Regions from separate parts of the Homo sapiens genome. Here all the other regions are linked to region 3. The links come from fine-mapping of genetic effects on gene expression. A gene starts in region 3. Each other region holds a variant in brackets. All regions are shown on one strand. Distances are from middle to middle. Region 1 overlaps SPATA31D1 (SPATA31 subfamily D member 1). Region 2 overlaps TLE1-DT (TLE1 divergent transcript). Region 3 holds the start of TLE1 (TLE family member 1, transcriptional corepressor). Region 4 has its middle 820 kb from the start of TLE1.

Evidence for each region. PIP is the estimated chance that this variant, and not a neighbour inherited with it, causes the effect.
Region 1: its variant is the best candidate, but not a certain one, in a credible set for the expression of TLE1 in whole blood (INTERVAL, PIP 0.50).
Region 2: its variant is the best candidate, but not a certain one, in a credible set for the expression of TLE1 in aorta (GTEx, PIP 0.83).
Region 4: its variant is the best candidate, but not a certain one, in a credible set for the expression of TLE1 in fibroblasts (GENCORD, PIP 0.51).

Annotation. Positions count from the first base shown.
Region 1 is chr9:81,990,746-81,994,911 of GRCh38, forward strand. SPATA31D1 (SPATA31 subfamily D member 1) reads left to right here. Exons shown (of 4, transcript NM_001001670.3): 4 at 28-4,166. The region is part of intron 1 of LOC105376107 (a long non-coding RNA gene); the gene reads left to right. Among named protein-coding and RNA genes, the nearest start is that of SPATA31D1, 4.1 kb to the left of the region's middle. The variant T/A (reference allele first, on the strand shown) is at 2,098.
Region 2 is chr9:81,766,057-81,770,222 of GRCh38, forward strand. The region is part of intron 3 of TLE1-DT (TLE1 divergent transcript); the gene reads left to right. Among named protein-coding and RNA genes, the nearest start is that of TLE1-DT, 78 kb to the left of the region's middle. The variant G/A (reference allele first, on the strand shown) is at 2,381.
Region 3 is chr9:81,687,484-81,691,649 of GRCh38, forward strand. It overlaps TLE1 (TLE family member 1, transcriptional corepressor), which reads right to left and starts at 2,064. Exons shown (of 20, transcript NM_005077.5): 1 at 734-2,064. The coding sequence starts at 757. TLE1-DT (TLE1 divergent transcript) reads left to right here and starts at 2,230. Exons shown (of 4, transcript NR_109772.1): 1 at 2,230-2,476. RefSeq lists an enhancer at 1,375-2,089 and silencers at 1,962-2,311, 2,462-2,611.
Region 4 is chr9:80,869,331-80,873,496 of GRCh38, forward strand. No RefSeq gene overlaps it. Among named protein-coding and RNA genes, the nearest start is that of TLE1, 820 kb to the right of the region's middle. The variant CAT/C (reference allele first, on the strand shown) is at 1,665.

The DNA of each region.
Region 1 (4,166 bases), 300 kb after region 3:
CTTTCCTTGTTCTGGTCCTGACTGCAGCTTTGGACCTCCTGTTTCCTGCAGTCCTCGGGGCCAGCATCATGATACCAACCACTTTCGTCGACTGTTATGCCCAGACCCCGTCTGTCGGGTGTGTAAGAGAGCAACTGCTGATATCCAGCAACTGCTGTCTTGGGAGTCCCTGAAAGATGCTGCTCCCTCTGTGTCCCCTTTGGCTTCTTCGGCTTCTGCGACTGAGTCATCGTTCACTCTGGCTTCCACCCCCTCAGCAACCCCTCCAGAAGACCTAATACTGTCCCCTCGGCCTAAGGCCTCTCCACCACCCCCCTTAATTCTCTCACCTGACCTGATCACCACCTTAGCTGACTTATTTTCACCCTCACCACTGAGGGACCCTCTGCCACCACAGCCTGTTTCTCCCTTGGATTCCAAGTTCCCCATAGACCATTCCCCACCCCAACAGCTTCCCTTTCCCCTTCTCCCACCACATCACATTGAGAGAGTGGAGTCCAGCCTCCAACCTGAAGCCAGTTTGTCTCTGAACACCATCTTTTCATTTGGCTCCACCCTATGCCAAGATATTTCGCAGGCCATGAATCCCATTGATTCTTGTGCTCGTCATCACGGACCACCAATCCCATCTGCTTTACCACCGGAAGATTGCACTGTGACTCAGTCTAAATCAAGTCTCACCATCTTGAAGACTTTTCCGGAAATGTTATCTCTAGGTGGCTCTGGTGGGTCATCCACCTCTGCCCCAACAATCAAAGGCATTGACCATTCACACCTTGCATCTTCAGAATTCACCTGGTGGCAGCCTCATGCCAAGGACTCTTTTTCCTCTAATTTTGTGCCATCTGATTTCATGGAGGAGCTTCTTACCCTTCATTCTTCTGAGGCCTTTTTAGGGGGGCACTCTGTGGCCAACCTCATAGAGCCTGTTAACATCTCATTTCTCAGCCATGACATTCTGGCACTCCTGGAGAGACAAGTCAAAAAAAGGGGTGATTTCCTGATGTGGAAAGAAAATGGAAAGAAACCAGGATCATTCCCAAAACAACTTAGGCCAAACTACCAACTAAATTCCTCACGGAATATGTTAACCTCAATTGCTGTTAAGCATGACTTGGCAGAATCCTTTCCTTTTTGGGCCAGTAAAGGCAAACTAGAATGGCAGCACATCCATCAGCAGCCTCCACACTCTAAATGCTTTGAAGACCATTTAGAGCAAAAATATGTCCAGCTCTTCTGGGGTCTCCCATCTTTGCACAGCGAGTCTCTGCATCCTACTGTTCTTGTCCAACGTGGCCATTCCTCCATGTTTGTATTCTTCAATGGCATTACAAATACATCTATATCCCATGAATCCCCAGTACTTCCCCCTCCCCAACCTCTGTCCTTGCCTAGTACCCAACCACTACCCTTGCCTCAAACCCTGCCCCAAGGTCAGTCCCCACATCTCACTCAGGTGAAGTCCCTGGCTCAACCTCAATCTCCATTCCGAGCCCTACTACCTAGTCCTCTATTCCTGATTAGGATCTGTGGAGTGTGTTTTCATAGACCCCAGAACGAGGCACGGTCTCTTTTGCCATCTGAAATTAACCATCTGGAGTGGAACGTGTTGCAGAAAGTGCAGGAAAGTTTGTGGGGCTTACCCTCTGTGGTTCAAAAATCCCAGGAAGACTTTTGTCCTCCAGCTCCCAATCCTGAATTGGTCAGAAAGTCCTTCAAGGTCCATGTTCCGATCTCCATCATTCCTGGAGATTTTCCACTCAGCTCTGAGGTAAGGAAGAAACTAGAGCAACACATTCGAAGGAGGCTCATCCAGCGCAGATGGGGCCTGCCCCGCAGAATCCATGAGTCTCTGTCATTGCTACGTCCTCAGAGCAAAATTTCAGAGCTATCTGTGTCAGAGAGAATTCATGGACCGTTAAATATCTCTTTGGTTGAGGGTCAGAGGTGCAATGTTCTAAAGAAGTCCGCATCAAGCTTCCCTAGAAGCTTCCACGAGAGGAGCTCAAATATGCTTTCCATGGAGAATGTGGGGAATTATCAGGGATACAGCCAGGAGACTGTCCCAAAAGATCACCTGTTGCATGGTCCGGAGAC[T/A]TCTTCAGACAAGGATCTGAGGTCTAACTCTGAGAGAGACCTAGAAACTCATATGATGCATCTGTCAGGGAATGACTCAGGGGTGAGACTAGGTCAGAAACAACTTGAAAATGCCCTGACAGTACGTTTGAGCAAGAAATTTGAGGAAATCAATGAGGGTCGAATGCCTGGGACTGTGCATAGTTCATGGCACTCAGTCAAGCAGACAATGTCTCTTCCTGAGAAATCCCACAGCCAAATTAAACATCGAAATCTGGTAACATTGGTGAGTGAGGACCACTGCGTTGATACTTCCCAGGAAATTTCCTTCCTTAGTTCCAACAAACAAAAGATGTTGGAAGCCCATATTAAAACTTTCCGTATGAGGATGCTGTGGGGCCTTCCCCTCAAGGTCCTTGAATCCATAGAAATCTTCAAATCGAAAGCGGACCTTTCCACTTCCTTTTCCCATTTCGACCTTCCCTCCTCAGCCACCTTCATCTCTCAGGGAGATTCCAAAGATGGGGTCTCTAAGTCCCGTAGTCGAAGCACTTTTCAAGGAGAAAAGTTGGGAACAACAAGCTCAGTCCCCATCCTTGATCGTCCTCACCCTGTCTCCTCACCTGTCGTCCAAGAAGGGCAGGGGACCCTGAGAAGACAATTTTCTGATACTGACCATGACCTTATAGAGACAGATTCCAAAGACGGGGCCTCCACATCCCTTAGAAGAGGTACTACAGATTTTCAAAGCGAAAAATTAGATTCAACAAGCTCATTCCCCATCCTCGGTCATTCTTACCTTGTCACTTCACCTGTCAACCAAGAAAAGCAGGGGACCCTGAGAAGAGAATTCTCTGATACTGACAATGATCTTACAGAAAGTGTCCGGACAACAGAGGATGGCAGACAGACTTTTCTGCCCCCGCCACACAGCATCGTAGACGAAGTCAGTCAGAAACAGACTGTACTGGCCAGTAGATGCAGCGCAGAGCTGCCCATAATGCAAGCTGGAGCTGGCTGTGAGTCATGGGATAAGAGAAAGAGTTCCTTTCATAATGTAGACAGGCTTCAGGGCAGTAGAAAGACCTTTCCTGTCACCAATGCTCTTCAATCACAAACTAGGAACAACTTGACAACCAGCAAGTCAGGAAGCTGCTCACTGACAAATGTGAAAGCAAGCACTTCCAATGAAACTGAAATTTTCCCACCAAGAATATCAGTTCCTCAAGATCCTAAATCATCATACCTTAAAAATCAGATGTTGAGCCAGTTAAAGTTGGTCCAGAGGAAGCATAGCCAACCTCAGAGCCATTTCACTGACATGTCTTTTGCCTTAGATAACTTGAGTTCCAAGGACTTACTGACTAATTCCCAGGGCATCTCGAGTGGGGACATGGGAACTTCCCAGGTGGTGCATGTCCACTTGGAGGACAGCGGAATCCGTGTGGCACAGAAGCAGGAGCCCAGGGTCCCTACCTGTGTCTTACAGAAGTGTCAAGTTACGAATTTCCCACCAGCTGTAAACAGAGTGAGTCCTGTGAGACCCAAAGGAGGAGAGCTTGATGGAGGGGATGCAGGGCTGGGGACATCCCAACGCAGGAGAAAGAGCCTCCCTGTTCATAACAAGACATCAGGGGAGGTGCTTGGGAGCAAATCTTCCCCAACCTTGAAAACACAGCCTCCTCCTGAAAACCTTTTCAGAAAATGGATGAAGACCTCTTTGCAGTGGTTTAATAAACCCAGCATATCATATGAAGAACAAGAAAGTTCCTGGGAAAAGGGTAGCTCCCTGTCATCATGTGTGCAGAATATTGGTCGAGTTATAAGAGCTGCCTTTACTGGGACTACTGAAGCTCAGAAAATTAGGAAAGACACTAGGGAGTTCCTAGAAGAGAAGCTGGGGCATAGGCATGGGATAGATATCACCTGTCCCCAAGAGCCCCTTTCCTTCCCAGTGGGGCTTGGGAAAGCTCAGCACAACCCAGAAGTGCATGTCAGAGCAGAGCCTGTCCAGGGCTGTCCCTGCAACTACAGGGCTCCCTCCTGCAAAGTGACACGTACCAAATCTTGCAGCCAACAAGCTATCTTTG
Region 2 (4,166 bases), 79 kb after region 3:
GAGGGCCATGGAAGAAAGGGTTTCGGGAAGGAGCTCTTGGTCAATAGCAGAAAGTGATGCCTAGAGGATAAGTATAGTGTCCACTGTCTATAGTGAGTAGGGGGCATTGGTAGCCTTGGGGGAAGTTCTGTGGAGTGATGGGGTGGAAGGCAGACGGCAGTGAGCAGAAGCACAAGGAGGCGGTGGTGAAGTAGAGGGGGTGGATGTACACACCTCCACTCCTCCAGGACATGTGACAGTGGGAGATCTGGGGATGGGGCTGGAGTTGGATATAGGGCCTTTGGAGGAATTTTTTTTTTTTTTTTAATCAAATGGGAGACAGTTGAGCTGATGGGCTGAAGCTGGAAAAGTTAAAGGAAAAGGAGAGATAGGAGCTGATGGATGTCATGGAGTCTGTGAGAGGCAGGAGGGGAGGAATCAGAAGACTATAAGAGGATGGGCTTTAAATAGGAGAAGTAGGACACTGCTTCCATTATAACAGGAGAAAAGGCAGGATTTTTGTTTGTTTGTTTTGAGACTGAGTCTCACTCTGTCACCCAGGATGGAGTGCAGTGGCACAATCACAGCTCACTGCAACCCCCGCTTCCTGGGTTCAAGCGATTCTCCTGCCTCAGCCTCCTGAGTAGCTGGGATTACAGGCGTGTGCCACCACGCCTGGCTAATTTTTGTATTTTTAGCAGAGACAGGGTTTCACCGTGTTGGCCAGGCTGGTCTTGAACTCCTGACCTCAAGTGATCCACCCACCTAGGCCTCCCAAAGTACTGGGATTACAGGCGTGAGCCACTGTGCCCGGCCAGGATATTTACTCAACACTTATGACTGGCAGACAAGGAACATGGTCCCATCTCCAGAAGGCTGCAGTCTGGTTGGAGTGGCAAGACATGGCAACAAAGGAGAATAACTCAGTGTGTGATAAGCCTACAGGAAATGAGTGCTGTAGTATTTCAGAAGAGAGCAAGATTAACTCCTGATGCTGTGATCAAGGAAGTTTTCATGAGAAGTGGCATTTGATTTGGGACTTGAAAGCAGAGGAGCATTTTACTAGCTGGAAAAATAAGTGGTCAAAGAAAATAAAGGAGAAGGAGAGTGCATTTCATGTAAATGGACTGGCATGAACAAAGGAATAAAGTAATGTATTTTAATTGGTTTATCCTTTTGGCAAAGAAACAGGGACAATTTTTTTTTTTTGGTCTATACTCTGATAAAACACGGCAATTTGGAGGAAGAAAGAGACTTTAGAGATTATCTCATCATATGTCCTTTTTTTTCTAGGTATGAAAACTGAGGTGCAGAAAGAAATAACTATTGAAAGTCACAAAACTGTTAAGTGACAGAGTTGGGCTCTGGCTCACAAGTGTAGCTTCCACAATACCATTATTGTACAGGTTGTAAGGATAGAATATATTTAGTAAAACCACACCAAATTTTGTTGATTTACATCAGAAGTGCAAGGGAGTAAAGACTAGATGAATTTTTAGATGTTTTTTTAAAAAAGAAATATAGTTGTAATCCCAGCACTTTGGGAGACTGAGGCAGGAGGATTATTTGAGCCCAGGAGTTCAAGACTAGCCTGGGCAAAAAGTGAGACTTCCTCTTTACAAACAAGCAAAAAATTAGCCAGGTGTGATGGTGCATCTGTAGTCCCAGCTACTTGGAAGGCTGAGGTGGGAGGATCACTTAAGCCCATGTGGTTGAAGCTGCAGTGAGCCATATTCACGCCACTTCAGTCTGAATAACCAAGTGAGATCTTGTGTCAAAAAAGAAATACAGTTATGTTGTCATAGTGATTACAATTCCAACAAAGTTTTGCTACACAGGCATGTCATTGTAACCTACATAAATGGAGAGACAAGAATGATTTGTTATTGAGAGATTAACTGATGACTTCCTGCTATTCACCAGACTTATCCTGGTCTCCAATGTCATGGCCAAATTAAGCCCCAATTGGCCAAAAGTGAAATTGAAAAAAAAATCTATGTTAACTCAAAGTATGAATTCACAAAAGAGCAGGAGAAAGATGATGAGAAGGTATTAGTTTCCTATGGCTGCTATAACAAGTTAGCACTTTTGGGGCTTCAAACAACACAGATTTATTATTTTACAGTTCTGAAGACCAGAAGTCCAACACAGGTCTCAGTGGGCTGAATCAACTTTTGGCACAGCTACATTCCTTTCTGGAGGTTGTAGAGGAGAATTTGTTTTCTGCCTTTTCTGACTTCCAAAGACTGCCCACTTTCCTTGGCTTGTGGCCCTCCTCCTCTTCTGCTAAAGCCAGCGACATTGCACCTCCCTCAGGGAACTTTATCACCCCCCTGACCACAGCTGAAAAAGGTTCTCTGCTTTTAAGACTCATGTGATTAGACTGGGCACAGTGGCTCAC[G/A]CCTGTAATCCCAGCACTTTGGGGGACTGAGGCAGGCAGATCACTTGAGGCCAGGAGCTCAAGACCAGTCTGGCGAACATAGCAAAACCCCGTCTCTACTTTAAAAACTACAAAAATTAACCAGGCAGGCCCCTATAATCCCAGCTACTAGGGAGGCTGAGGCATGAGATTCGCTTAAGCCCGGGAGGTGGAGGTTGCAGTGAGCTGAGATCGAGCCACTGCACTCCAGCCTGGGCGACAGAACAAGACTCTCATCTCAAAAAAAAAAAAAAAAAAAAAAAGACTCATGTAATTAGATTGGGAAATTGGATAATTCAGGCTTCTCTCCTTATGTCAAAGTTCTTAACCTTAAAATCACATCCATAAGGTCCCTTTGCCACAGAAAGAACAATTTCACAGGCTCTGGCATTAAGATATGGACATATTTGGGGATCCATTATTATTTTGCCTAATACAAAGAAGAAGGAGGAGGAAAAGACATACTGTGAATTATTAGAGAGATGACTTATAAATAATTAGAAAAGAAAATGAGCATCAAGAGCCAGTATAAATTCATTAAATCATAGCAGATATTTTCTTATGTAGCAGAGTTACTAGGCAAATAGATATGGGGAATGCCAGAGACAAATTGATCCTCCGGTTTTTCTCTTAGGATGTGCTTGTGGAAATATAATAGCATTTGTGTAGGGTGTCAATGCAGCACGTCTATTCACAACTCATTAAACGACTGCTGAAAACTGCGAACAGGCATAAACCTGATGAAGGTCTCCTGGTGTGTCATGGGGGTGTCTGTCCTTGGTCCATCTATCTGTAGCATGACCAGCAACCAGGATGAAGACTTGAAGGTCAGGTGTATCTGATCTGCAGGTGACACAACAGTATATAAATCTAAAGAAAATCTCAATACGCTGGGAAGATAAGATGAACACACATTAATGTTACAATAGTAAACATGAAGTCTGAAATGTCAGGGAGAAAATCAGTTGAATAAAGGAAGGATGGGACTGAATTTGGTGTCAGTTTCTGTGGAAAATTAAAAACAAGGCTGGGTACAGTGGCTCACACCAGTAATCCCAGCACTTTAGGAGGCCGAGGTGGACAGATCATCTGAGATCAGCAGTTCGAGACCAGCCTGGCCAACATAGTGAAACACTGTCTCTACTGAAAAATACAAAAAAATTACTCGGGCATAGTGGCGGGCACCTGTAGTCTCAGCTACTCGGGAGGCTGAGGCAGGAGAATCGCTTGAACTCAGGAGGCAGAGGTTCCAGTGAGCCAAGATAGCACCATTGCACTCCAGCCTGGGTGACAAAAAGAGACTCTGTTTAAAAAAAAAAAAAAAAAAGCAATTGCTGTGTCTGTGAAAGTAAAAATTATATTAAGGGCATCAATTAGCAATTTTTTTTTTGAGACAAAGTCTTTCTCTGTCCCCCAGGCTGGAGTGCAGTGGCGCGAACTCTGCTCACTGCAACCTTTGCCTCCCAGGTTCAAGAGATTCTTGTGCTTCAGCCTCCCTAGTAGCTGCGACTACAGGCATGTGCCCCTACGCCTGGCTAATTTTTGTAGTTTTAGTAGAGATGGGGTTTCACCATATTGGCCAGGCTGGTCTCGAACTCCTGACCTCAAATGATACGCCCACCTCAGCCTCCCAAAGTGCTGGGTGTGAGCCACTGTGCCCAGCCCAATAGCAATTTTTTGAGCATCTACTATGTACCAGGTACTGTGCTAAGGGGCTTTACATGTCATATATTTTCACCCTCACCAAAAAATCTATAAGGAAATAATG
Region 3 (4,166 bases):
AATAAAGCAGTAAGTCAGAGAAGGCAAGAACGGGTGGGACATAAACATAAAGTTAGAAGTGGCTGAAAACGAGGCCCCAAACTCGAGTTTGCCCTTCACTATGGGGAGGGGGAAAGCGGACCCTCCCCGGGCCCCGGCTTCTAAAGAGGCTCGGAAGCTCTTCCCAGTCTCCAGGGCGGATTGCGCTAAGTGCGCCCGGGTCACCAGGCCAAAGGGAAGGGGGCTCCCCGGCGGCCAGGGAAGACCAGGCCAGATTGTCGGTGTCGCCGCCCCTTCCCCCACGGCGGCGATAATGACCCCGGGGACCAGAGGAGAAAAACAACTCCTTTACGCTCCCCATTCCCAGAGTCGCCGGGGCCACCTCCAGACGCACCGGAACCGGGGCCGCATTGACATGTAAATAGGCGAGAGGAGAAACAAAGGGGGGGGCGCCCTGCCCCCACTCGGGGAAGGTAGAGGGGATATGGCTGCAGGAGAGAAACCCCAGCCTTCCCCAGCGCCCCTGTCCGCTCGGTATAGACGTCAAGTAGGAAGGAGCCCAAAGGGAGGGAGAAAATTAAGAGTTTCGGCCCACTCCCCACCCCAGGAAGAGAGGGCCCCAGACCTCCCCAGCCTTACACCGCTGAGGGCGAGAAGGTCCGCCGGGCCTCAGAAGCCACCAGTCTCCCTACCGCCCGGGAGAAGCGCCTCCCCAACGATCCTGGCCCCCCACCACCACCCAGCCGCGCCTCACCGGGTGCCGGCTCTGCGGGAACATCGCTCTGGCGGCGGCCGGGGCTCTGTTCCCCGGCAACTCAATTCTCCGGTCAATTTCCAACTTTAATCCCGCCGAGGAAAATTAAGCCGGAAAGCCAAGCAGAAGCGGGGAGCGCGCTGGCCACGCACGCGCGCTCCGCCGGGCGCACCGGCCACTCGGCGCCCGCAGCTGCTCCGGCTCCCGCTCCCGTCGGTGCGGGCTCCGGCCCTCAGGGCCACATTAGTGGGCGCCCCAGGCCCAGCTGCTTCAAGAACCTGCGCGGAGACGTCGGGCGCTCGGGGACTGTGCGCGGGGGCAGCGCTCCAACCCCCGGCCTCAGCTGCCCGGGCGGGGAGGCGGGGGCGCGGTGACTCCGACCGCACTCCCCTCGGCGATCCGCGTGCGCGGCGCCAGTCCTGGGCAAACAAATCCAGACGGACTGCTTTTCTTTGCTCTTCTCCTGGTCCGCCTCCTCTTCGGGCTTTCCCCGAGGCGGCGGCGGGCGAGGTGCAGGTGGCGCGGCGGCCCCCGCTAACCCCACACAAACCCGACGCTTTCGGGGCGACTCCCGCAAGATTCGGCTGCGCCTTCGGCCGGGTGCTCGCAGGCTCCCGGGACGCAAAGGGGAGCGAGGTTGAAGACGCAGCGGAGGCTCCTGGCCGGGGAGCGACGGATGACGAGGCGGGGAAAGTGCGGAGGGCGCGCCGGGAGGCGGCTCGGCACGCCCCGTGCGACCAGCACTCGGTGTTCTCCGCGGTTGCACAAACCCTCCGGGCCCGACGGGGCTACTCCACCGAGAGCAGTCCCGCAAGTGCCCAATGCTCCTCGAGCCCGGGGAGCATCAGGGCGCCGCGCCTCGGGCGCACTCGCCCTGCACGGCCGGACCGGCCGCTCCGGACCCTTCTTCCGAGCTCCTTCTTCCTCGGTCTTCTTTCTTTCCTTCCTTCACCTTCGTGTGCTTCTCCGCAAAGGGCGCTCCAGCCCACTGCAAAGTTCTCTCACCACCCGAGGGACGACATCCACGAGATGGTGGGGAAAACAGCAGGAGTGCGCTCCGCCAATCGGCCACCCTCCCCGGCGGGCAAACTCTGCGGGCGAGTCCAGAGTAGTCACAGCGGTGGGGCCAGCGGGGGTTTTGGTCGCCGCGGGACGACGGAGGTCCGGGCTGGTGGCGCGGGTCCCGCCCGGCCGTGCGAGGGTGGGGTGGCGCAGTCGGCTGCCTCCGGGACGCGGGGCACAGAGTACCCGCCGCTGTTTCTGCTGCTGCTGCTTCTGCAGCCGCCGCTCCCACCGCCGCCGCCGCCCGCGCCTCTCGCGCCGCTTACATTAACACGCGGTTTCACACTCCGGAGCTAACCAGCGCCGGCCCCGCCCAGCCCCGTTCGGGCGGGGGGCGCGAGCGCGGAGCCGGCGGGGGACGTGAGCCCGGGAGGTTGGGGGGTGGGGGGGGGGCAGAAGGCCCGCATCAGCCAATCGCGTGCGCTGCAACCAACGTGGGGCGCTGACGCGCTCCTCCCCGGAGCGTATGGCAGCGCAGCGCCGGACGGGGCGTTCTCCCTCCCCCCCTCCTCTCGCTTCCATCTCCGCCGTCTCCTCGGTCTCCCTTCCCATCCCGGCCCCTCCTCCGCCAGCCGCGTCCTCCCGGGCTTGGTGAGGAACTGTTCCTGGAGGAGCCGCGGGACGCCAAAACCAGCCAATGGGAAGCGGCGATTCGCGGAGATTGGCACTGATGATGGGAAGGTCGGTGGGAAGGAGAGCGGCGGGGCTGGGCTGTCAATCAAAGTAACGTGGGGCTGGCTAGAGAGCGCGCGGGCGCGCGCTAGCGGGAGGGACTGGCGAGCGTGCAGCCGGGGAAGCTGAGGGCTCGAGTTAGCAAAAATCCTGCCACTTGCTCACTTTTCCCTTTAATGAAAATCCTCAGATCTAAGTGAAAGTAACTCAAAGACTAGCTGCGGAGTTTCTTATTGGAGGCGGAGGGGGGCTTTTGGTAATTCGAGCAAATGTGTTTTTCAGTGCTGGACCCCTTGTTTGATGCTACTCTAAAAGTGAGGCCACATTCAAAAATTTATCTGAGGTTTGTTTTTCCTTGAGCTGCCTTTTTACGGATGTACGAGAGGGAGTGGACTGTGCACTTAGTTGGAAATGCGTAAATGAGCAACGCCACGGTTGGCGTAGGTACACCAGCAAAGACGACTGTGATGTCCTCCCACCCCACCCACCCCCTTTGCACCCAAAGTGGTAGGATTTGATTTTTATTGCAGGATTTCAAGCCACTTTTCAAAAAGATCGTCCTGTCCCGTTTGGCGGGAAGGATTCCCAGGGTGCTGCCAGAACAAGGCACGCGTGTCCGCAGATGAGACGTTTTGCCCGGGGCGCGAAATCCCAGGTCTTCGTCTTAAAAGTCCTGACTTCGCTGTGTTGGGAGAGGTGGGGAGCGGCTGAGGTTTTTAGGAACTTCTCAGCTACAAGACTACGAGTCTGTTTCCAATTCCTGGGAACAAAGAGAGACAATGTAATAAACCAGCACTGAGACCTGAAAAACCTGTCCCGCACACCCCACCCCCACAGTCTGGGTGGTACTCCTGAGCTGAGCTGTGTGAAGAGCTAAATGGGAAGAGTTAGGTAAATGACGTGGCTAAGGTTCTTATGAAGTGGAACTTGAGTTAAAAGGGATTTTGAGATTGTAATAATCAAGACATGCTGTATAATTAATGCTGAGAGTCTTTGGTTTTTGTGTATGTCTCTAAATACACAGCAGAAAACCGTCAGTATTGCCGCATTTATGCTTTTGTTTGAGGAACATTTCCACATGAGCAGTGAATGAATAATGCTGGTTTAGCCAAACGGTGGTAACTTCTTCCATAAGGGCACATCTTGGACAAGTATTTATCTTATGTTGGAAACTAGTTAAGTTTTTGGTATTAATAACCCCCACGTTATTATTTTATTATTTTACCTTCAAGAGACTTACGGGAAGGAGCTTATTTAAACAGACATACATTTTATTTAAAGATGTGCTTTTACAGAGTTCTTTTTCTTGAAATAGTTTTAGAAGTCATTTTAGATAATACATTTCACTGTTGGAGTTGTTTTTAAATATGTATGATATTGATTTGTCTATAATTGCATCACTCCCAAATATCAATTATAAATGAAAAAATAAAAAAGCGATTTTAACCAGTCTGTACGAAGCCATAGTAAATTCTTAAACAAGTTGGGCATTGTAGCTTTGTGGTGTTCTCATTAAGTACAGTTGGGAAGGCGGCTGTATTATTCATTTTGCTAACATGGAGAACAAAAAAGAAGAAAGCACTGCCTCACTTTCCTTGGTTAAATTTGGTGACGATGACAGTTTTGCTCGACATACAGGACTTTTTGGAATCATAGGATCCCAGGGCCTTTAGCAACCTGTTTTCCTTGAAATTATCTA
Region 4 (4,166 bases), 820 kb before region 3:
AAAGCAAACTGAAGGTACTATTTGTTATGCTCCACTATTCAATACTATAAAAAATAAAAGAAAAAGCATCTAAATTATTCTATTTTCATCAGTTATTTTACACAGAAAAACTATACAATTAGAGTTGAATTTCATAATTACTTTTTACTCCAAGATGGAAAATGTGTAGTTAATCAAAAGAGAGTACTGCAAGATTTATTTTTTGCTACCTATTTTCTAGCACATAAAATAGATGGAGAGGCATCCTTAAATCAGCACACCTCACCTTCCCAATCCAGTCACTACTTATTACAAGTTTGATGTAACCCAAAATAAAGTTTACTAGCAAACTATTAAATATAGGCAAATTGTCTTTTTCAACACTGTTAGTTCAGTGATGAGAACCAAGTTTTAAAATAATTGATATTTGGCTCTAAGTTATTGCAATGGGAATGGGTAAATTTGCATCATGAATCCACAACACTTGGAGTAAAGAGTAATTATGAAATTCAAATAACCAAATTCAGTTTACCTAGGATGGTTTTGTTATGGACACACACATCCATGCTCAAAATTCAGCATCACAGGGAAGCAATAAAGCTAGTCAAAGAAAATATACTGAAGGTGGAAAGACACGTATCAGTGACTCAATGTATCAGGTCAGCATATATGTGAAACGGTGATTTTGGACTTATCATATAGGGGACTGAAACATTTTAGCCTATCTCTCCTCAGAGTAAAATTCCACCATGGAGAGGAGGAGCTTCATGAGGAGTTCCAAAGAGCTGTAACATTGCATGAAAGATCTAAGGACGAATTTAATATCTCACTCTCAGGTCTTGGGTACTGGGAGGAGTAGAAAGATAAGTAATTGTCCTTTGACTTTAATGATCCATTGTAGATCTGCACAAAGCAGAATATCTGTAGTAAAGTATAGATAAGAAATTCAGCTCTAGGTAGATTCAGGTAAAACTTGAAATAAGCATTCTTTCATGTTGGATTGCGTTCTTCAGCGTCAAGAGTAGTTTTCTTTTTTCAAGCTCAACCTTTACATCTAGATAGACAGAAAATAAAATAAATATAATCAAAACCATTTACAAGTTGCCATTCACTAATATTGTCTATTTAGTTGAGTAGGATTATCATATCACATGCTTCTATGTCCCTTGCCATTCTGTCCTTACACAGATATGTCTTTGTTTCTTCTTTCTGTTTTTCACAGCCATCAGGTAGGCAATTGACATTTCTAGTGTAATGAAAGAGAAAATAGAGACACAATAAAAATAAGCAAGTTACCAGAGTTTATAATCATAGCTACCAAACTCTGTATTCCTAGTTTGTTTATTTATTCACATATTTGCACTATCTCCTGGGCATATATAAAATAGAGACAAGGGCCAGGCACAGTGGCTCACACCTTTAGTCCCAGCACTTTCCACTTTGGGAGGCTGAGGCAGGACAATTGCTTGAGGCCAGGAGTTTGTGTCCAGCCTGGGTAACATAGCGAGACCCTGTCTCTAAAACAAAACAAACAAAAAACCATATAGGTATATGTGTGTAATATATATAAAATATATAATATGTGTAATATATATAATATATATTATATATAATATGTGTAATACATATATGTTACATAATATGCATAATATATGTTATATATGTAATATATGTTATATAATATA[CAT/C]ATGTTATATATGTGTAATATATATAATATGTGTAATATATAATATATATGTGTAATATATATTATATATAATATGTGTAATATATATAATATATAATATGTGTAATGTAATATATATGTACACACATACACACACACACACACACACACATACATACAGGTATGGTGGCACGCACCTGTAGTCCCAGCTACTCGGGAGGCTGAGGTAGGAGGATCACTTGAGCCCAAGAGTTCAAGGCTGCAGTGAGCTATAATGGTGCCACTGCACTTCAGCCTGGGTGACACAGTGGGATCCTGTCTAAAAATGAATAAATAAATAAATAGTTTTTAAAATAAAATGAGAAAAATAGAGACCTGAAAATGAAAGATGACATATACATTCATTACCAAATATAGAGACAGAATAGACTTATTACAGATTACGACTGCCTCCTCCTCTCATCCCTCCTTAGTAAATGCAGTTCTTATATAGAGGGTACAGTTATCTCATCCTAAATGTTTAAGTCTAACTCATGAGAAACACAGATTTGGCATTAAGAGTAATAACAACATTTTTTTCTAACATTCAATATCATTTCCCATCAATTATCTTACTAAAGTTTGCTTTGCAACTATATTACTCTCACTTTTTAAATATCACTGGCAAACTGTAATATAATTCCTGGACCTTGGTTCAAAGCTTTACAGAAATCTACTCATGAAAATCTCTTCTGCATAATACATAACATGTGGATTTCTTGGCTTAGGAAGAGACCTTTAGAAGGCATGATTCTTTAATAATGTACCATAAAGAAAATGTTTTCAAAGTATGTTTAAGATAAAAATAATCTAATTATATAATTATGGATAGAGAAAGAAAGAGCTCTATGTGGTTAGCCTGGCTCTAACTATGAAAATATGCTTTTCATGGAATTGGCATAGTTTACCAACTAAGACCACAAATATTAAATTGCTCATCATAGGTGGGCTTTCTGTAAGATTTTAATTATGGACAGCCAATGACTGCTCACATATCAATTCAGCTTGAAATCAAACATGGCTGTACTTCCTATATTAAGTGCAATTTAAAGAAAGATCACATTTGATTCATATGTAAATTGCTGGCAAAAATTCTAAAGCTACTTGTTGGCCCATTCTTCTTCTTTGGTAGCCAGGGTAGGAACACATTTTGCCAATGTGAGAAGTTTCTCCATTTTCATGGATTGGGAGATTAATTCCAAACTTAGGAAATACTTTTGGTTTTTTATGTTGTTTACACTTAACAAAGCACAATTTCCAGTTTCGACAAAAAAATATGGACTTAAATACTTTCTGAGCAAATAAACACATAAATATTAAAAAGACTTGCAGGACTAAAAAATAAGAAAGCCATATAAATCTCTTTTGGTTGCACAAGTATACATAACTTAGAAATTTAAGGATCTAGTTTTCTTTAATATATGCCTGGATTTAAAGATTACAGGGAAAAAAAGTATTGAAAAAATAAATTTGATGTTTTATTTTAACTATTATTTATAAAATAATTTATGAAGACATGACTTCAAAACATAGCTGTGTCATCCTTTTCTAATTCATGTATAACAAATGGCAACACTTTAAATATGTCTGTCTTTCATAACATGATGCATGTTTTCCCTCCCCATAAAAACCTCAACTCATGTATAACAGTATTTTTAACTAATAAAACTGCAGTAATCCAAAGAAATTTAGACATGTATAAACTAACTAAATAGATACAGTTTTTCATTTGACATTACTTCAAAATTAAGGTTAGCAAAATATCACCTGGGACTAATTTTCTGAGGCTCAGACTGTTCCGCTCTATGTTTGTAAGGAATGAGAAATGAATGAAGAATTTTTTCTCTCTCAAAGATTTTCAACTGGGCAGTGGCTAAAAAAGAATCAGTCATAGGAAGCCATTTTGAAAATTAACAATCTTTTCAGTGGAAAGTGATGTTTTAGTTTATCTCTTTGGATTTTATATATCTAATGCATATGTATAGACCCAAGAAGCCTACTTGTGGGTGTAGAACAATTTTAGAGCTTGTTTTTTAAAGTATAAAATTCCTAGTGTAGAAATTTATATAAAAATAAACAGATGGAAGGCAAAAGAACATGTGGCCCACAATTTTTAAAATTGGAAAAAAAATTATTTTTCTTGATTCATATTGGAATAGCAACCATAAATGAGGACAATTAGCAGCTTTTCTTTTCCCTTTGATTCAGTAAAATGTTTGTTTGGCTGAAGTAATCAGAATATAAATTTTCCCTGTAAGGGAGTTGCAGAGAATAGTGTATTGGAATTTTATTTTCAACATTTTTTTCTTTTGCAAAAGAAAGACCAACAGAAAATTGTTGTGGTTAATAAAATAGGATTCATAGTAATAGTGATATCACATGTCTAATGTGAACCATAGCAGCTTTATCCAGGGCAATAACCCTTCTCCTTTTTTGTACACTTATTTTGTTCTATACCATCCAAATAAATATGCCTCACTGC